Homo sapiens: one gene and its partners. The protein of the gene in region 2 purifies or fractionates together with the protein of the main gene of each other region. This does not show direct contact. Each region holds a gene or a part of one and is shown on either strand. Other genes may lie near its edges.

The links.
Region 1: the proteins of FANK1 (region 2) and UBXN2B purify together in Homo sapiens (affinity purification with mass spectrometry; 3 studies listed by BioGRID and IntAct, with this or other methods). This does not show direct contact.
Region 3: the proteins of FANK1 (region 2) and ATG4B purify together in Homo sapiens (affinity purification with mass spectrometry; 3 studies listed by BioGRID and IntAct, with this or other methods). This does not show direct contact.

What each region holds. Positions count from the first base shown.
Region 1 is NC_000008.11:58,428,310-58,435,417, forward strand, and holds part of UBXN2B (UBX domain-containing protein 2B), read left to right. Parts: intron 1-2,209; coding exon 2,210-2,360; intron 2,361-4,850; coding exon 4,851-4,934; intron 4,935-6,085; coding exon 6,086-6,195; intron 6,196-6,548; coding exon of another isoform or gene 6,549-6,606; exon of another isoform or gene 6,607-6,794; intron 6,795-7,108. UniProt on the Homo sapiens protein: Adapter protein required for Golgi and endoplasmic reticulum biogenesis. Involved in Golgi and endoplasmic reticulum maintenance during interphase and in their reassembly at the end of mitosis.
Region 2 is NC_000010.11:125,892,121-125,899,621, reverse strand, and holds the start of FANK1 (fibronectin type 3 and ankyrin repeat domains protein 1), read right to left. Parts: upstream 3,059-7,501; 5' UTR 2,980-3,058; coding exon 2,967-2,979; intron 2,817-2,966; exon of another isoform or gene 2,714-2,816; intron 1-2,713. UniProt on the Homo sapiens protein: Through the activation of JUN and AP-1-mediated transcription, may regulate apoptosis.
Region 3 is NC_000002.12:241,640,588-241,647,695, reverse strand, and holds part of ATG4B (cysteine protease ATG4B), read right to left. Parts: intron 1-7,108. UniProt on the Homo sapiens protein: Cysteine protease that plays a key role in autophagy by mediating both proteolytic activation and delipidation of ATG8 family proteins. Required for canonical autophagy (macroautophagy), non-canonical autophagy as well as for mitophagy.

The DNA of each region.
Region 1 (7,108 bases), on a different chromosome or scaffold from region 2:
CCTATCACAATTTTCATTCAACTTGTACTGGAGGTTTTAGTCAGCACAATGAGATTAGAAAAACAAAAGTATACAAATTGGAAATAAATAAAGCTCATTATGTGTAATGACATAATTGCATACAAAGAAAACTGTAAAAGACTGATTCTTTTTCTGATTCCTCTGGTCATTTTGATGTTTTCCTCCTGTGTTCCTCTTCATTCCTAGAATTTTGTCCCTTGTCCTCTGTGCTTATCTAAGTCCTAATGTCCTAAATCCTTTTAAGGCCCAGCTGAGTACTAATTCTGTACTACAGATGCCTATCTTTTATTCCTTTTCACTTATATTTAATAAGTTAGTTTGAATGAGTATAGAGAATTACTTCAGCAATCAATAAATATTTTTGCCCCAAACATTCATGAAGAATTAAAGTTGAGGACTTACACTGCTGCATGCAAAGACTTATTGTAAAGCTGCAATGGTTAAGAGAGTAAGAACTGACAGTAGACCATGGACCAAAATACGAGAACTCAAGAATCATAGGCAACTTGATTTATGACAGTGCAGAGCAGTGAGGGGCAGAATTTCATTAGGTGGTACTGGGACAAATGGACATTTATGTAGAGAAAAAATAGTTCTTGTCCTCTACCTTATACCACCTATAAACGTCAGTTCCATATGGGTTGTGGATCTAAATATAGAAATTAAAACAAATTTCTGGAAGAAAATAGAATATCTTTATGACCTTAGAGTAGGCAAAGATTTCAAATAATAAAAACCGTTAACCGTAAAGGAGATAGGAAATCATTTGCTATGACCGATTTTTGCGGTAAGGTCTTTCTCACTAAGACTGAGATAAAAAGGAATGATTATTCACTTTGCCAGATTAGAGATGTGGAAAGCCTTGAAGGTGACTTCCATTCCTCGTTTCCAGGGCACTCCAGAGAGGGGAGGAGTGTTACGGCAGCAGACAGCTGCAGCAGGAAGTGTTGCTTTGCTTTTCTGTGTTTGTCGTCGCTCCCTAAAATAATCTGCTTCTAACACTAAGGCTTGTCTTAAAAGCCAACTAGGGCAGTGTTCAACCTTGCTTGCTACTCTGGACCCTTGAGTGTAAGCTTGGGACAAGGGCTTCCATAGGCTCCTGCTCTAGATAAATTTGGGCCCAGTGTACTTCTCCAGAGCACTGGCAGGATGAAGCCCCACCTCCACCTTCTGCAGTTTGTGGGGTTTAGTAGGGTTCTCCTGGTGTCTCCTTGTTCTCCATCCTGATGGATCTTTTCCTTCCTTTACTGCAAAGTGAGAGCTGGTCTGTTCTTTCCTCTATCTTACTCAGTTTTGCATATTCTAATTTAGGAGAAAGCCTTGAAGGTGAATTCCATTCCTAGTCTCCAAGGCAGATATCATTTCCCCCCATTGTTTTGTTCTATGTGTCAGTTCAGTGTGAATTTGGAATTGGATTGGAGAGTTATAAGTATTTTAACAACTGAAGTTTGATTGTCATCTTACCCTGGAAGTCTCCATGTTGATACTTCATTGTTTATAGTTTCTGATATTCTTGATAGAAAAAAATCTTGAAAGATAAAAGTAGGTTATTAATCTTACGTAAAGGTAATTTTTATGTTTCCTAGGACCATTTATGAAGTTGGAGTCAAAGTAGAAATTGGTCGCCAAAAAATTACTGTCTAAATTATTTACTTTTAACAAACGCAGGGGCTTTTAAGGGAGTAGGTCTCTTAAATCCAAAAATCTCTGAAAGATAAATCCTCTCTAGATAACCCTTTAGTTTAGAATTAGCTGTTTATACTGTCTAAATCTAAAGATCTCGTCACTAACTAGGTCTCTACTGAGTGTGGCCTTCTTAGGGAGAAGGGACTATCTTTTGACTGTTGACACTGCTTTTCCTTCTACATCAGAAGTGCTGAATTAGTGAATGAGATGTATGTGATAAGCAGTTACAGAAGGCTGAGGGATCAGCAAGCAAGCCAGTTGCCGTGCTGGAGGCTGAACTTGCCCTTAGAATCAATCTTTGCAAACTCAGTGAGAAAGTATATGATTTCCTATTTATTATACTTTTCCTTAATCCCATTTTAAAAATTAAATATTCTCATAGAAGTCAAAATAATGCCTCTTTTTAAATAAAATACTTTTATTTTCATAAGACTATGTAGCTTTTTACTTCAGTTTATGTCTGTTATCCTAAGTTTTTATTCATGAACTAAAATGTTTAAAGGTTTTACTCAAGTGAACATGAATACAGTGGATTAAATATAGTTCGACCTTCAACTGGGAAAATTGTGAATGAACTTTTCAAAGAGGCAAGGGAACATGGGGCTGTCCCTCTGAATGAAGCCACAAGAGCTTCAGGTGATGATAAATCTAAGGTCAGTGCTCAATTTTAAACTAAATACATTGTTTCTATATTTTACCTCCTCTTTCATTTTTCTATTATTTGCAAACATTGTTTTTCTAATTGTATATTTCTGTTTTAAATATTTGTTTCATTTTTATAAAATTATAATATTTCTATTAATGATTGAAAGTTGAGACAATTTCTTACATTTCTGAACAACTTTTTAATTTACCTTTTAATTACAAAATAATTAGTAGAGTCACAGGCATTTGCAAAAAGAATACAGGGAGGTTTCATGTACCTTTCACTTCAATGGTTTCCCCCAATGGTTCCCCCCAATGGTTACGTTTCACATGATTGTAGTATAATATGAAAGCCAGGAATTTGGCATTTCTCTCTGTCTATGTCCTTTTATCACATGTGTAATCACCCAACTGAAACTCTCCTTCATAGCCTACCATTTGCACTCACACCCACCCCGTCTCTCATGCCATCCCTAACCTCTAGCCAATACCAGTCGGGTTTTCATCTCTATAATTTTATCATGTTAAGAGTGTTAAACCAGCCGGGTGTGGTGGCTCATGCCTGTAATCCTAGCACTTTGGGAGGCCGAAGCAGGCAGATCACAGTTCAAGACCAGCCTGGCCAACATGGTGAAACTACAGTGTTATACAAATGGAGTCATACAATATGTGACCTTTTGGAATAGCTTTTTTCACTTGGCATAATGCCCTTCAGATCTGTCAGAGTTATTGCTTGTATCACAACTTTGTTCCTTTTTAATTCCCGAGTAGCATTTTATATAGATATACCACAGTTTAACCATTCATTTATTGAGGGATATTTTAGTTGCCAGCTTTTGACTATTACAAATAAAGCTGCTGTGAGCAATTGGGTACAGGTTTTTTTACTCACTTATGGTTTTATTTCTCTGAGATAAATGCTCAGAAGTGCAATTGGTAGATCATACATTAAGTGTATGTTTAGTTTAAGAAACAGCCAAACTATTTTCCAGAGTGGTTGTGCCATTTTATATTCCCACATATATGAGAGAGCAAGTTTCTCTGCATCCTTTTCAGCACTTGGTATTGTCACTATTTTTAATTTTAGCCATTTTGATGGGTGTATAGTGATAACATGCCATGGTTTTATTTTATTTGTCTAATAACTAATGATGTTAATTTGCATTTTCTTAATAGCTAGTGATGAACATCGTTTCATGTGCTTCCTTGCCATTATCTGTATTATTCTTTTCAAGGAAATATCTCTTCATTACTTTCCCATTCTCTAATTGGATTATTTTGTTACTGTTGAGTTTTGAGAATTCTTTGTATATTTTAATAGGTATGGGTCCTTTGTCAGATACATGGTTTGTAAATATTTTCTCTCAGAATGTCATTCATATTTTTATCCTCAGCAGGATTTTTCACTAAGGAAAAGCTATAAACTTGGATAAAGTCCAATTTATTCCTTTTTTTTCTTTTATGGATCATGCTTTTGCTGTATTGTCTAAGAACTTTTTACTTAACTGTAGGTCCCAAATATTTTCTCCTTTGTTATCTGGAAAAATGTTACAGCTTTACATTTAAAGCTATGATCTATTTGAATTTTTTATATAAGGTGTGAGGTTGACACCAGAGTTTATTGTTTTGCTTATGGATGTCCAGTTGCTCCAGCATCACTTCTTGAAAGGCACTCCTTTCTCCATTGAATTGCTTTTGTACCTTTCTAAATTTCTTTTTTTTTTTTTTTTTTTTTTTTTGAGACAGGGTCTCGCTCTGTTGCCCAGGCTGGAGTGCAGTGGCACCATCTGGGCTGACTGCAAGCTCCGCCTCCCGGGTTCACACCATTCTCCTGCCTCAGCCTCCAGAGTAGCTGGGACTACAGGCACCCGCCACCACACCCAGCTAATTTTTTGTATTTTTAGTAGAGACGGGGTTTCACCATGTTAGCCAGGGTGGTCTCGATCTCCTGACCTCGTGATCCGCCTGCCTCGGCCTCCCAAAGTGCTGGGATTACGAGCATGAGCCACCTCTATACAGCTTTTATAATTGTTACCAACTGACACAATATTGATATACTAAAGACGAACAGTTACGTGTCTTTTGTGGTATCATTTCATACATTCTTACAAGTAGCATTTCTCAACCTGGAATTTCTCCATCAGAATCATTTGGGGAGGTTATCTAAACTACCTGATGGCTTCAGGTATTATGGTTCAATAAATTTGGGATATGCCTAGAAACGTGTCTTTTTAAAAAAGCCTCTATGATAATTTTGACATCCATTGTTGAGAACCACTGCTGTAATGAAACTTAAATTTTGGTTTTCATTTCATTATTCGTCAATGGTTTGAAATGATCTTTTAGTCAAGTCTTATGGTAATTTTGGTTCTTGAAGGCTCCCCAGTATGAGCCACTTTGGCTAATTAGAATTAATCTAGTTTTAAAATACATATCACATAATAACTTTTTGCTGAATAATCCTTTGTGAATTTTAACTCACTTGCTATGTATTTTAGTCATTTACAGGTGGAGGATACAGATTGGGTAGTTCTTTTTGTAAGCGGTCTGAATATATCTATGGAGAAAATCAGCTGCAAGATGTAGGTACAATAATCAAAATGAAAAAGTATAAATATTTGCTTCTAGTTACTAAAACTGTTGGTTTTAAAATTAAGAATTGATAATACAAATATATTTTTGTTACTTTTTAAAACATGGGTTAAAAGGACCAATGATGTGTGAGTTTTCAGTCTCGATCTTTATGTTTTGTATCACAATTATGCCTTGCACTTAGAGATATGGAACTATTTGTTGAAAGAATGTGTGATTCATTTTCCAAATGAATTTGCAGCCAGGCGTGGTGACATGCATCTGGAGTCCCAACTACTCCAGAGGCTGAGGTAGGAGGATCACTTGAGCCCAGAAGTTCAAGGCCAGCCCGGAAAACATAGCCAGACCCTATCTCTTTAAAAAAAAAAAAAAAAAAAAGGTGTTTAAAAAAATGAACTTGGGCCAGGCACAGTGGCTCACGCCTATAATCCTAGCACTTTGGGAGACTGAGGTGGGCAGATTGTTTGAGCCCAGGAGTTCGAGACCACCCTGGGCAACATAGTAAGACCCTGGATCTTTAAGATAAAAAAATCAATTAAAAAAAGAAAAATGAACAAATATATAGTTATTATTATAAATGGTATATTTTCATAATCTAAAATGAGGTGAGGTGTAAATGAAGAACACCTAAAGTCATTCTTTGTTTCTGTTGCCTTTTGAAATTTTGGAGTTTTAATTTTATTTTAGACATTGATAGTTTCTTGGAAGGTCACTGGAAATTCTGTTCCCCTTAGGATGAATATTTAAGCTCTGTAGCAAAGAAGAGTATGGGTGCAGATGAAGGAAAATGAAGGAAGTGGGAATCATGGAGTACAGCTCTTCTCATTGCTTTCATTTTCTTGTGAACCATCCACCAATAATTGTACTTCGAGGCCAGGGTCCACCTGCAGGACCTTTGGTATTTGCAGCCATTGTCAGTTTGTTAAGCTGAATGCAAACTAGCTAAACAAACACATGTGGTTTCATTAATGTCTTTCACTATGAATAAAGAATAGTAGAAATAACTCCCTATTTTAAATTAAGTAAATACGTTTTAGGATATCACATTTGGAACTTAAAATTATTTGGGGGAGATATATTCTTATGTATATGTGAATATATATATATATATATATATTTTTTTTTTTTCTATACCCAAAAGGTTCAGATTTTGCTTAAACTGTGGAGCAATGGTTTCAGTTTAGATGATGGAGAATTGAGACCTTACAATGAACCAACAAATGCTCAATTTCTGGAGTCTGTTAAGAGAGGGTAAGATGTATTATTTGTATTCTATTTGTTATGTAGAGTGGGACTTATTTTCTTAACAGACTACTCATTATTAGTGCACTACGGGTTTTCAAGAAGTAGTTCCTGGAATATATTAAATAAATGGTTGCTGGGGGTGTAGGTATTCTTAAGTTTATAAAGGATATACTGCTATCTGTATGTAAGTCACTGGTTCTTAATTTTGTGGGCCAGGGGCATTGGACATTGGCCCATTTTAAAATCTGATGAAACTATGAACCCAGCTCCAAGAAGAAACATCTTAATGTGATAATCAGTGAATTAATTAGTATGTAGCTGCCCACCCACTAAGCCACTGTCCTGCTTACTGTTGACAGGGTGACTCTCATTGCATGTATGCCTGAAATTCAGCAACTTATGTTAGAAATCTTTTAATGTGGCATTACTGCTGGCAGAAGATTTCAAAAGGTTAGTTTGAAGTTATAATTTGTGAAAGTAAACTCAGATATTCAGTGCTCTCACCCATCCAAAGAACATTGTAACTTACCAGCTCTTCTTGCTAAAGGATGAGGAATCAAGTGATTTTGCTATGATAATAAAAGCTTTTCTGTGTTATGATTAAACTAGCTGAAAGTGGAGTTATTTCTAAGTAGATATGCAACTAAAGACATAAAGTTGAGCATAAACTGGGGAATTAAGTTGTAGGAAAGGATCAGAGTTTTACTGTATATAACCAGAGTTATATATACAGGGTTATACTCCATAAAGGAATAGAAGGTGGAACATTTCCAAATGTTGAAATATGTCCAGGATGAGTGGCTGACATGGAGTGGAGGTTAAATTCGTCTTTTAGAAGACTAATTAGCATGAATTTTGAATTTAAATTATATACAGATACTGTCAGGATACCAAACAAAGGCAACAAATGCCCTAAGAA
Region 2 (7,501 bases):
TAAAAGAAACCTCAAAGATCATTTAATCTTGTCCTTTTAAATATTTAGTAACTGTGAATGGTAGTAAATATTTATCCAAATTATGTTTCTTAGACTGTAAAAGAATTTCCAGGCTGGGTGTGCTGGCTCACGCCTGTAATCTTAGCACTTTGGGAGGACGAGGCAGGAGGATCACTTGAGGCCAGGCGTTCGAGAACAAATTGGGCAACAAAATCAGACTTTAGCTCTATTCAAAGTAAATAAAATTAAAAAGAAAATTAGGGGCCGGGCACGGTGGCTCACGCCTGTAATCCCAGCACTTTGGGAGGCCAGGGCGGGAGGATCACCTGAAGTTAGGAGTTCAAGACCAGCCGGACCAACATGGAGAAACCCCATCTCTACTAAAAATACAAAATTAGCCAGGCATGGTGGCGCATGCCTGTAATCCCAGCTACTTGGGAGGCTGAGGCAGGAGAATTACTTGAACCCGGGAGGCGGAGGTTGCAGTAAGCCAAGATCACATCATTGCACTCCAGCTTGGGCAACAACAGCGAAACTCTGTCTCTAAATAAATAAATAAATTAGCGGGGTATGGTGGCACACACCTGTAGTCACATCTAGCCAGGAGGCTCAGGTGAGAGGATTGCTTGAGTCCAAGAGTTCGAGGGTGTACTGAGCTATGATCGCACCACTATACTCCAGCCTGGGTGACAGAGCAAGACCCTGTCTCAAAAAAAAAAAAAAACAACAAAACTTGAGCTAAATGGTGATTGAATTATTTAAAATTAAATTGATGAAATAATTTAAGAATATGTGGAAAGAAAGAAATTTACAGTCATTCCTCAGGTATAAATTAAATATTTTCCACCTCAAAATCCAATGACATGAGATATAAATGTATAGTTCACATAAGTAATACATTTCTCACATGGTTACAGAACCTTTCTGATCAGGCTCCGGTTGAATTTTCCAGCCTTATCTCATTTCTCCTCCCTCCTTCCAACCCTGTTTTTTCCTCCTCCTCTCCTTAGCTACAGCTTTACTAATCTTCCTACCGTGAGCCTCAAACCCACGCTGCTCTCAGGTCTCAGGGCCTATGTACAAGTAATTCCCACTGCCTGGAATCCCTTGCCCTCATTCTTTGCTGGGTCATTCTGCAGACCCAGTACTACTTCCTCTTGGGAGCCTTTGTCCATCTCCTCTTCCCCCAATCTCCGAACCCCACCAAGACCTCAGGAGTTCTTGAGCAAGCCTCTGCTTAGTTTTCCTGGGATGACCAAAACTAACACTGTCCGATCCGTTGTTCAATCCTCAATCCCTAGAACAGAGCTGCAACATAACAGGCACTATAAATGAATGAATGGATAAAGACAGCACTGAAGAACTTGAAATTATAGTTTACACATGAAAACAGTAACATAAATCTGAAGAAATAAAGTTCTTTTTTTTGTTTTTTCGAGATGGAGTCTCGCTCTGTCACCAGGCTGGAGTGCAGCGGTGCAATCTGGCCTCACTGCAACCTCCGCCTCCCGGGTTCAAGCGATTCCCCTGCCTCGGCCTCAGCGTCCCAAATAGCTAGGACTCCAGGCACGCGCCACCACACCTGGCTTTTTTTTTTTTTTTTTTTTTTTTTTTTTTTTTTTTGTATTTTAGTAGAGATGGGTTTCACTATGCTGGCCAAGATGGTCTCAATCTCCTGACCTCGTGATCCGCCTGCCTCAGCCTCCCAAAGTGCTGGGATTACAGGCGTGAGCCACCGGGCCAGGCCAAGTTGCTGTTTTTAAAAGGTATATTTCAACTCACTTCTCTAAGGCGGGAATATACACAGCCTGCCATCAGTTTGACATAAAACAAAAATTTTAGCGTTCTTGTATGCTAAATTTCTTTTACTAGGTTAAAAAAATGTAGAATCCAAAGAGCTGTAAATGCAAATGACAAATACTGTACAAAATCTATCAAGCAACTATAAGTCACAACTTGCAAGCTTTCTCCTCAGCAAATGAGTTAAAAGGAAAAGTATTTGAAACTTTCTTGGTGGAAAACGAATGACCTTTAAAAATGCCAACATTTTCCCCAGAGAATAGATTTGGTCTGAGTTCTTCATTTCTGAAATTGTACAAGATAAGACGACTTGGTTTGAGAGTCAAACTGCATCCTTCTATAAAGGTTTTAGATAAATTTTAAGTCTCCATACAAAACACTCCCCTTATTTTGAGAACAAAAGGAACAATAAGACAGCTTAGGCGGGGCAGAGAAAGAAAGGCCTTGAAACAAAGTCCCTGGAAAGGTAAAAACAACAACAAAAATAGTAAGTTAGAGCTCGTGTTTAGATCTGATAACTCAAAACTGCACAACTTTTGCCATACATCGAAAGCAACATGGGAAAACAGAAAAAGAGATTACAAACATTTTTTGAGTGTCCTAACTTGTAGAACCCCTAAGAATGAATCAAATACACTTGGACAAAGCTCTTCTTTTCTCTCTCTCTCCTTCAAGTCGCAGACTAGGGGTGTGGGGCGGGGGGCGGGGAGTAAGACGGGGTCTCTAATAAATACAAGACCCAGCCTCGGACGTGTTTAATTGCTGACATTTTAGAAGAAAAATGGGCTACTTACAATTAATGAACCAAACTACCAAACTAAAATCATGAGTAGGAGGAGGAGTAAATGGAACCGTCCGGGCGAAGTTTCAGGAAGACGCACGCTGGGGTCGCTGCGCCCTTCCCCACCCATACCTCGGGGCTCTCCAGTCGCTCCCAGCCCCCAGCGCGGACTCTAGGGCGCCGGCGGCCCAACCATACAGACTTGGCAGGATGTAGCCCCCTTCTCCCCTCTCCAGGAGAGAAAAGCGCGAGGAGACGCAAACCGTATTTCCGTGTCCGAGCGTTGAAACCTGCGGAGTCGCGCGCGGGGCGCCCACACTCGTTCCCGGGGAGCCCCAGCCCGGTCGCCCGCCCCGGTCCCAGCTCCAGCCCGGGCCTCCCTTACTCTGGGGCTCCATGGTCGGCTGCTCCCCGGCCTCCGCGGGCGAACCCCCGGACTCCTAACGCCTCTCAGCCAGGGCCGGCGTCGCTACGGTTGCCCTGACAACCCGGAGGCGAAGTGGGCAGAACTAAAGGGACGGCGAGCGGGAGGGACCAAAAGCCGCAGGAAGTGAGGGAGCGCGTGAGGACCCGCGCGTCGCCGGGGACACTGAGCGAGGGTAGCGGCCAGGTCACCGGCTGAGGACACTGCTCCTGAAGCCCGGTCAGGCGGTCGCGCCCTCCCTGGCGGCCCCCGCGGCCCCGCAGGACCTGTGCCCCGACGTCGCCGACCCGCGGTCCCCGCTGTCGCCGACCCGCGGCGTCCGTCGGGCGAGTGGGCCTGCCCGCGGGTAAGGCGCCGGCCCTGGGCCGCCCTCCCGGGAATCGGGAGCCGCCGCTGCAGGTAACAGCGGGGCCCCGGCGGCGGAAGGGGTCGGGGGTCGGCGCAGGGGCGGGCGCGCCCCGAGCCGGGTGGGCGGCCCCGGCGCACCTGTTGTAGCCGCCTGGGGGTCCCCTGCCCGCAGTTGGCCGTGGACGTTCCCCGCCCCGACTCCGAAACGCCGAGGGCGGCCTCCGCGCCTCCTGCTCCGGGAGCCGCGCCTCAGCGGGAGGACGGAGCCCTGCGGGCAGCCCTCGCACCAGGGGCTCCCTCCGAGCCCGGGCATGGGCCGGGCCTGGGGCGGTCCCTCGAGCCCCCCTGACGGGAAGCGTGGAGCAATGCGAGCCGCCGCCGTCGTCGCTGTCGTCCCCAGTGAGCCTGGCGCGTCTCCTGAATCGCGAGAGCCAGGAGCACGGTTTTGCCCGGCTTTGCCCCGTCATCCCCGTGTCCCATTTCAGGCAGGGGGCCCGGGTTGGATCTTTCTCGCTGGCTTCGTTTTTTGTGTGTTGATTTGTTTCAGTCCTTCGCGTTTCCGGTTGAGTTACGGAATCTGCCCACACGTTTTGTGGCCAAACTTTGTAGGGCTGTGAAACAATGTAACATTATCCCACACAATAGTCTTTCATACTGGTTTTAAAACACAGTGATTCAGGGTTTGCTTTAAGGAAGCTTTGAGGATCACAAGAGATTATTATCTGGTAGGTTGTAAAAATTCAAACAACCAGGAGAGTATCATAGGTTCCGGAACACCAGAAGGAGGAAAGAAAAATGGAGACGAGAGAAAAAGGATAAGCAAGAAAGTGCAGGGGCATTAAGGGTGTGGGGGGCTGCAGGATTGATTTGGTATTCAGGTCTGGAGATTATGGCCCCTCTATTAATTCCAACCGCTGCTCCAGACAGTACTTGAGGGAAATGGAAGGAAGAGCCGTTTTGGGGGTCATGGAAGTGATTACTAATCTTGCCAGTAGAAAGATTTCCACTCCATGGATGACAAGGACACTAAGGAGAATTACTTTCCTCTTAGGGAATCATTGAGAGGTTAATTGAACTTGAGAAGCATATATTCTGTGATGGAAACTGACATTTATTATATTCTTCCAAATTAGGTTTTCCCCCTCTCAGACTATATGGGGACTTTTTCAGATTAATTGTCAAAACAAGAAGGTTTATGTGTGGATATTGACAAGCAGCGTGATATATACAGAACACATAATTCTTAAGCTGAAGTATTAAGGTAATAAATTAAGGGTGGAAAGTAAACACTTCATGGAACCTTAACTCCCTGTTCCTGAAATTTAGAGACAGGGGCTTCATTTTTAGACAGAAAGTATAAAGATCAGCAGTACTCCTGTATCCAGTGGTTCTCAAGTTCTAGTTTACATATCATTAGCAAAATCACAAAGCGGTCTTTTCATTCAAGATACAAATAGAGTGATCAGTATATCATAATCAAAAGTGACAAGATAGTGATTTAAAAAACACCTGGCATTTATTGACAAAAGAAAAGGTAGGATTAAGTCTGCTCAAACAGTAAAGGATTAGCATTAGTATTTTTTTAAAAAGAAGAAACAACAGTGCAGGTCTCTATGCTAAAGTAATAAGGACTGAAGAAGTTTTAAGTTTGGAAAAAATGGGGATATGTATTGGTGAAACACTTTGTAATCATATAGAATGATTATTTTATCAGCAGCTGTTAAGTTGACTTTGAGGAAATTTTGAATTGAAATACTTTAGGTGACAAGTAAAGGCAACTGTGAAAAGCAACATTTGATTTTAGGGGACAGGGTACCTGTGAAAGAAGACTGGTTAGGAGTGGAAGTCAGGCGTAAAGGCACTGAAATGTCCGAGGCAGGGACAATATTCAGTTTCTCTTCCTCTATCACCTTGTGCAATGTACCTGTTAAATGTTTGTTGAATGAGTGAGAAGGGCTTTAGAGAAATTGTTTTGGATATAGGGATACACTTTACTATTGGAGAAAACACCCGAGATCAGAAAGTTGCTAATGAGATAGGGGTGGGGGATGAATGGTAAAGACACTCTACCTTTTTGGAGTTTTCTACCATTGTGTTTTATTTCTTTTCACGGGCATGTTCAGTATGTTATTAGTGGTCAAATGAAAAGGAATAAAGTTCTATATATATTTTTTTAAGTCTCCAAGCTCATTACTAGATAGAATAGTTACATTATTGTTTACTTTGCTGATGTTTAACTAAATGTAGCAAACTGAAGCATTATGGATCGGGAATAACAAAGTAACAATGAAGAGACAGATGTAGTCTTTTTCTTATTTAAATCTCTTGACTACCTCAGAATTCAAAGTAGAAATAACTTTAGTGGGAGGTTAACATTATTTAATGCAAATAGGTTGATAAAAAATGTAGCAAATGAACATGTTATTAATAGTTCTGTCTTCTAGCCTTACTGTGGTAAGTTGAAGGAAGTTTTCATTTTTGTTTTTGTTGGTTTTAGGGTTTTTGTTGATTTTTGTTTTCTTTACCAGAGTGAGGGTACTTTTTTCTCTATCTGATACTTTCTGAAACTCTTAGGGAGTTCTGTCAAAGGTGGAAAACAATCAATTTCTATTTTTGGTGTTTTCCTCTTTGTTCTCCAAACTTGTCATGGTCTACATTCAATTTGTTGCACTCAAATGGAATGTCTATCTCTCCGCCCTTTACTCGTCCACAGTCTAAAGGACACTGGCCGGGCGCGGTGGCTCACGCCTGTAATCCCAGCACTTTGGGAGGCCAAGGCAGGCGGATCACGAGGTCAGGAGATCGAGACCATGCTGGGTAACACGGTGAAATCCCGTCTCTACTAAAAATACAAAAAATTAGCCGGGCATGGTGGCGGGCGCCCGTAGTCCCAGCTACTCGGGAGGCTGAGCCAGGAGAATGGCGTGAACCCGGGAGGCGGAGCTTGCAGTGAGCCGAGATTGGGCCACTGTACTCCAACCTGGGTGACAGAGCAAGACTCCGTCTCAAAAAAAATAAAATAAAAGTTAAATAAATAAATAAATAAATGGGACTGCAGGAGCATGCTGCCCCAGTTTCTGGAAAGTCTTTCAGGATTAGGCTAATGCCCACTAAATGCACTTCGCTCTCCTACTGGGGGTGCTACACGGTTTAGCATTTAGCTCTGTAGGATGCTTTCCTATAGAATTTTATCTCATATGGATGGATCTTGTACCTCTGACTGGATTAAATATGTTTGGAGCTAAGTGCATGACTTACGCTTCTTCTGTGTTGCTTTTAGCACATGGTGGTCTTCATTGTGTACCTGATAATTTAAGTAGGGTAATAATAGAGAGGTCAAACCTTTAGTTAGGGGTCATTGCATTAATTTCTAGCTTTGCCCTTTTGGAAAACCAGAAGCTATTATTTTGTCATTGATAACTTGGGATAATAAAACCTGCAATGGTTGTCTGATAGTCTAGTTGTGAGAATCAAGATAAATGTGATTATAGATTATGAATGAAAATATCTTGTATGTCGTAATGAACTTTTTTAATATAAAGGGCTGTTATTGACTTAGGCATAGAGCAGACATTGATTCCACATTCACAATGTGTTAGGTACTTCCTGGGCTCTGGAATTGCATGTCATAAAGGGTAAACAGGAAATGACCAGGTGCTTCCGAAGCAGAACAGCCTGGGCTGAGGCACGAAGGCCGGGAGAACAACTAAGCCGTGGTTTATTGTGGCTGAACTGGAGAATACTTCTTCATGTGTATTAGCAGAAAATGGGAGGAAGTAAGCCCAGAAAGGCAAATGTGGGCCAAATCAGAAGGAACCTAAGGACCATGAGTTTATTTTCCTTAAAGGTAATAAGGAGGATTTGGGTCAGTGACTGGATCAGTTTTGCATTTGGAAAGGATCACTGGCAACACTCAAATGACAGATTGGTAGAGAGCCTAAATGAGAGACAAAAAAATTGGAGATGTTGCTGAAGCTCAGTGAAGAAATGAAGAGAACCAGGAGAGCGATGGTGGGAATAAGAAGGAGGGGCCACTAAAAAAGGTAGAATTGGCAGATCTTGGTGATATAGGAGATGAGGAAGGAGAAGCCAGGGATGACAGTGGGGTGATAGACTGGATTGTTCTGTTATTCATTGAACTCTAAAGA
Region 3 (7,108 bases), on a different chromosome or scaffold from region 2:
AACTTATTCTCAAGGAAAAAGGATGAAAACACCACCGGTCTAATTTCTTTTCTTTTTTTTTTTTTTTTTTTTTGAGACGGAGTCTCACTCTGTCGCCCACCAGGCTGGAGTGCAGTAGCGCGATCTCGGCTCACTGCAAGCTCTGCCTCCCGGCTCATGCCATTCTCCTGCCTCAGCCTCCTGAGTAGCTGGGACTACAAGCGCCCGCCACCACGCCTGGCTAATTTTTTGTATTTTTTTTAGTAGAGACGGGGTTTCACTGTGTTAGCCAGGATGGTCTCAATCTCCTGACCTCATGATCCTCCCGCCTCGGCCTCCCAAAGTGCTGGGATTACAGGCGTGAGCCACTGCGCCTGGCCACCACCGGTCTAATTTCAACACTGCAAGACAATGATTCCATCTTGCTGTTGGAACATTCTTCTCATGTTTGACACCGTTCCAAGGCACCAGCTTTGAACTAAAGATACACATATCTTTTATTTAAAGTACAGCAGAGCTAAATGAACACTGGCAAGTATCTCTTTGTAGACTACAGATGTTCCTTAATTAGGATGGGATTATGTCCAATAAACCCATTGTAAATTGAAAATACTTAGGTCAAAAATGCACTGAGGCCAGGCACAGGGGCTCATGCCTGTAATCCCAGCACTTGGGGAGGCCAAGGCGGGTGGATCACCTGAGGTCAGGAGTTGGAGACCAGCCTGGTCAACATGGTGAAATCCCATCTCTATTAAAAACACAAAAAGTTACTCGGGCATGGTGGCAGGTGCCTGTAATCCCAGCTACTCGGGAGGCTGAGGCAGGAGAATTGCTTAAACCCAGGAGGCGGAGGCTGCAGTGACCTGAGATCGCGCCACTGCATTCCAGCCCAGGTGGGAGAGTGAAACTCTGTCTCAAAAAAAAAAAAAAAAAAAGCATTGAATACACGTAATCTACCTAACATCATAGCTTAGCCTAGCCTGCCTTAAATGTGCTCAGAACACTTACATTAGCCTACAGTTGGGCAAACTCAGCTGGCAACACAGTGCCCTGTAGAGCAGGGGTCATTCCCCCTTCTCATGATGTGGCTGACGAGGAGCTATCTGGCATCTCGAGAGTATCTGGAGGCATACTGCTAGCCCAGAAAAAGATCAAAATTCAAAACGTCAAGTATGGTTTCCATAGAATGCATACTGCTTTCACACTATCGTAAAGTCAAAAAATTGTAAGTCAAACCATGGTAGTTTGGAGACCATCTGTACTTCAGAAGAATGTGGCGTATGTCATCAGGAAAAGGACCATATTGTTGAATCAGTAACAGTCTGCAGTAACAGAATCTGGAAGCTGAGAAACTTCTAGGATGTCTAGTTTCCCATATTAAAAATATAAATGGTAAAGGAATGAGAGAAGTATAGATAAGGAAGAAAAGGAAAAAGGCTCCCTCTGAAAGCAGGGTCACGAGGCCTGAGCGGCTGTGAAGTTGAGGGATTTTCATCACGGACGCAGTAAAATGCACAGCAGGTGTATTTCTTAGGTTTATCACCAAACTTTATAGGCAAGGAAGCCAACTTCAGAGTGAAGGGAATAAGAGGTGTTCCATTAAGTTCAAATACACCACCACACCTCCAGCTATAACTGTGAAAATTACAGGTGTGTGGCCTCAGATTGCTCACTGTATAAACCATCAAGGAGACCAGGAAACCCCAGGGGAGCAAATCCAAGGAGCAATCACGGTGCTTGGCAGTGAACAGGAGTGGCGCAGCCACGGCGAACGTGACCCATGAGGTCCCTAAGGAGGGCTCCCACACCGTGCCCCAAGCTGCTCTGCTCCTCCGTCCAGAGAAACGCACTCCGGCCCTCCCCGAGAATCCTGCCCTCTGTTGGGAGCGAGTCATACATTCCCCTAGGGCTAGTGGCGGACACTCTGAAAACATGATCCCTTGCTTCTCCCACCACACTGCACCCTCCTCTCGGTACTGTGGAGGACGCTGCAAGTGGGGAGTGTCCACACGTCACACCTGGAGCACGTTCCTGACAGCTGGAGCGCCAGCTGTGGAGTCAGAAGTCTGAGCCCACCACTGAGCAGTCACGCAACCTTACAGGCTAGTGACCTTCTTGTGACTTGGTGTCCTCACTGTGAAACGGACAAGTCAAGGTGCAGGAAAAGCTCTAAACTGCACGGGAGCAGTAACCACTCTTTCAGGGCCAGCCTTCTCAGATCACTGAAACGGGTGAGCAGTCACGAACCGGCATGGATGGGAGGTATTCTGTAAGCAGAGGTGCAGCACAGAGTACAAGGTCAACAGAGACCCAACCAAACATGAGTCTCTTTACTAACACTGAATCCAACATAACGTCCTTTCCTCCAAGAGTGACTGCATTTAGAGAGCAAGAGCCTGCCCCCGGCCTCACGGGCTGGCTCCAAGGACCAAAGAGACCTGCAGCGATTCCTACAAAAGAGCCAATAAAGACTCTCAGACTCGCATCTCTTCAGTTATGAGGAGGTCTTCCCTGTACTCTAGGGGCCCCACACTGTCCCTCTCATGCTGGAGGACAGGAAGGAATGCCCTCGGCAGGCCCTCCGAGCAGAACTCACCCCTCCTGGACACCCTCGCAGCTCCAGCTGAAGAGGAAGACACAATGAGGAGCCATGGACTGAGGCATCAGAACGGTACAAAGACCTCCCTGACCTTCCAGATCTTACTTTATAATGGAGGAAGATAACTTTTTTGGAATTAACACTTCTAATTTCTTTCTTTTTTTTTTTTTGAGATGGAGTTTTGCTCGTCACCCAGGCTGGAGTGCAATGGCACGATCTCGGCTCACTGCAACCTCCGCCTCCCGGTTTCAAGCGATTCTCCTGCCTCAGCCTCCCGAGTAGCTGGGATTACAGGTGTGTGCCACCACGCCTGGCTAATTTTGTATTTTTAGTAGAGATGGGTTTCTCCCATGTTGGTCAGGCTGGTCTCGAACTCCTCATCTCAGATGATCCGCCCACATCAGCTTCCGAAAGTGCTGGGATTACAGGCATGAGCCACCGCAACCGGCCGACACTTCTGATTTCTACTGAGGTTTGGTTCTGGAGTCTGACAGCCTGCTCGATAGCTACAGGCAGACCGCGCCCGGCCAACACTTCTGATTCCTACTGAGGTTTGTTTCTGGAGTCTGAGAGCCTGGTCGATAGCTACAGGACAGACACAGGCCTGGACTTCTTCCAGCCTCAGTCTCCTCACCCATGAAATGGGGCACAGCCACCAGTTTTCCAAGTGGGGTGAGAACCCACAATGGGTGCAAAACTAACGCTCACAATCACTAACATCTGCAGATCGACCAACACGATGATTCCATTCCCAAACGTTCCTTCTGGCTCTGTCACCCAAGGGTCTGGCTCTGTCACCCAAGCTGGAGTGCAGTGGTGTGATCTCAGCTCACTGCAACCTCCCCCTTCCGGCCTCAAGGGATCCTCCCACCTCAGCCTCCTGAGTAGCTGGGACTACAGGCATGCACCGTCATGCCTAATTTTTGTATTTTTTGTAGAGGTGGGGTTTCCCTATGTTAAGCAGGCTGGTCTCAAACTCCTGGGCTCCAGTGATCCACCCACCTCAGCCTCCCAAAGTGCTGGGACTACAAGTGTGAGCCACCACACTTGTTCCTTCACTGACTCTCAGATGTATGAGATCCACTTAGGCCTGACACCAGCTGCCTCAGCAATTCGCCATGGAGAGGTTCCCTTGTCTTATTTCATAGCCCCTGTCATAATTTCATCATCTTCCCGTGCCACATCATGTGATTTATAAGGTAATTCATGTAGCTCCTGATAGAAAAGGAGTCAAACTTCGGAAAAAATATCCACTCGCCGGGTGCAGTGGCTCACACCTGTAATCCCAGCACTTTAGGAGGCCAAGGTGGGTGGATCACCTGAGGTCAAGGGTTCAAGACCAGCCTGGCCAACATGGCAAAACCCCGTTGCAGTGAGCCGAGATCACGCCACTGCACTCCAGCCTGGACGACGGGGGGGGGGGAAAATATATACATACACACACACACACACACGTATATATATATTTATACATATATGTGTATATATTTATGTGTATATATACGTATATATATGTTTATATATATATGTACATATATACATAAATAAATATATAGACCCATCTCTAGACTTCCAGGTAATGATATTAATTTGAAATAAGATGACATGTAAGGCCAGGTGCCGTGGCTCATGCCTGTAATCCCAGCACTTTAAGAAGCCAAGATGGGAGGATCACTTGAGCCCAGGAGTTTGAGACCAGCCTGGGCAATACAGGGAGACCCTGTCTCTCTTAAAAAAAAAAAAAAAAAAAAAATAGCTAGGCGTGGACATCTGTAGTCTTAGCTACTGAGGAATGTGAGGCAAGAAGATCACTTGAGCCCAGGAGGTCAAGGCTGCAATGAGCTGAGGCCGCAACACCATACTCCAGTCTGAGCGATGAAGTGAGACCCTGCCTCAAAAAAAGATGACACGCAGGAGGAACAAGATGAAGAAGTAGGTTGGGTGTGGTGGTTCACCTGTAATCCCAGCACTTTGGGAGGCCGAGGCGGGCAGATCACTTGAGGTCAGAAGTTCGAGAACAGCCTGGCCAACATGGTGAAACCCCATCTCTACTAAAAATATAAAAAAGTTAGCCAGGCATGGTGGTGCACACCTGTAATCCCAGCTACTCGGGAGGCTGAGGCAGGAGAATCTCTTGAACCCAGGAGGCGAAGGCTGCAGTGAGCTGAGATAGAGCCACTGCACTCCAGCCAGTCTGGGCGACAGTGAGACTCCGTCTTAAAAAAAAAAAAAAAAAAAAAAAAAAGGACGGAGAGGTGCTGTACACCTTAAGAAAGAGTCCCCCTTAGAAGCAGTTCTCCCATTTGGTCGGCTGGATCCCAGACACTTGATTTTCCACGCCCTCTTCCCTGGGACTTCTGCGATCACAAGCAGAAGAGGGCAGATGGCATTTTAATAATATAGTAATTCCATCAGAAAAAACATGTGACTTAGTACTACTAATCTGACAGGCAGAAATGTAGGGAATTGTACTCAATGAATTTAACCAACTTCTCTCCATTTAGTACCAATTACACTTCATTCAACCAGAGAGGACTACAAAAAAAAACGAGTAAATTTAAGAGCTTACTGTAAACCACTTCATTTCGAAGAAACCTTCCTAAAACACTTAGAAGTTATTTTCCAAAAGATTTATATTTTATAAATTCAACAAAGGTTCTTCTTTTCCTTTAGAAAGCTCTTAGGTTTAAGATAACAGTTTGCATATGATTACTACTTTTTTTTAAATCTCCAAGAGTTTACATGAGAATGCTAGTAGTTCAGTCCTGAATGAAAACAGAGAAAGAGAGAAAGGAACTCCAAATTTAGCTACATCAGAAAGCTAGAAAACACTGTTTCAGTGCACACACTGGGCAGATTGCGCACATTAAAACCCACTCCCCTAGATCGCGCCCACCGCACTCCAGCCTGGGAAACAGAGCAAGACTCCATCTCAAGAAAAAAAAAAAAACCACTCCCCAGCAGCCTCTGCATTCATTACATGTTATGCTAACATACTGGATTTATGTTAAACTCTACAAACTGAAAGCTTTGATAGTAGGGGAATGTGTAGGTTATTATTAATTCAAGTTCTGTTTTTTTTTTATTACCAACCACATGCCAGACACAAGTGATGCACTAGAAATGCAAGCACAAGACACCAGCTCTGTCCTCAAGGAATGGGCAGTGTGGCTATTTAAGTGCTGGCACCTGCCAGTCGTCTGAATGGGGAGCATGCTTTTAGGGACAGTGCTAGGGACTGGTGGAGAACACAGCCACACTGTGGTCTGCCTGCCACCTCCTGGACCTCTCCACACCCGCAGAGGCCTTTGGCCTCTTTTCTTTCCCACCCACATTCACACCCTGGGTGACCTCATCTGATGTGACCTCCAGTCTATCTCCAGCCCAGGCTTATTCTTTTAGCTCCAAACCTGTAGACCCAAAAGCCCACTGGACACTGCTCTACAAGGATGTCTAACATCCACCTCACATTCAACACACATAAATCCAAACTCGCAACAGAAAGCTTCCCACCAGACAGGACCTCCCCAAGTCTTCCCCATCTGAGTTTCTTTTTTTTTTTTTTTTTGAGACAGAGTCTCGCTCTGTCGCCCAGGCTGGAGTGCAGTGGCGCAGTCTTGGCTCACTGCAAGCTCCGCCTCCCGGGTTCACGCCATTCTCCTGCCTCAGCCTCCTGCGTAGCTGGGATCACAGGCGCCCGCCACTATGCCCGGCTAATTTTTTGTATTTTTAGTAGCGACGGGGTTTCACCGTGTTAGCCAGGATGGTCTCGATCTCCTGACCTTGTGATCCGCCCACCTCGGCCTCTCAAAGTGCTGGGATTACAGGCGTGAGCCACCACGCCCGCCCCCCTCCATCTGAGTTGCTTAGCTCAGGCCATACACTATGGGGCCATCTTTAACTCCTCCCTCTCTACCCATCCCTCTCCCAACTTCCAATCTACAAACAAATTCTATTGTCTCAACCTCCAAAACACATGCAGAAGTCAACCTCTTACCCACCCTGAGCTAATCCACTGGCATCTCCTTGCTGGCTTGTTCAACAGTCTCTTAGCTGGTCTCGCTGCCTCTGCCCTTGCCCCTCTGCAGTACATTCTCAAAAGAGATGCCAGAGCAAGCCTGTTGAACACAGTCTATCATGTGACTCCTCCTCTAGAATGAAACCTTCCAAACGGCTGCCATCCTGTTCAGAATAAACACTGAGTCCTCACTATGAGCTGCCATCCTGTTCAGAATAAACACCGAGTCCTCACTATGAGCTGGCAAGGCCCCACTACACTGAGCCTAAGTCACCTTTCTATCCTCAGCTCCTGCTTCTCCCACCGCCACCCGCTGCACCTGAGCCACACCAGGCTCTTGCTACCTGCCCTTCCTCCTACACTGCTTTAAGTCTTCGTCAAAACTTAAACCTTCAGAGTGAGACCCTTCCTGGCCATCCTGGCTACAATTCCAATCCTCCTCATCCTTGGCCCAAATCACCATCCCCCAGGAGCCACGCACTTCGCTGCTAATGCTGGTCTCATGTCTAGAA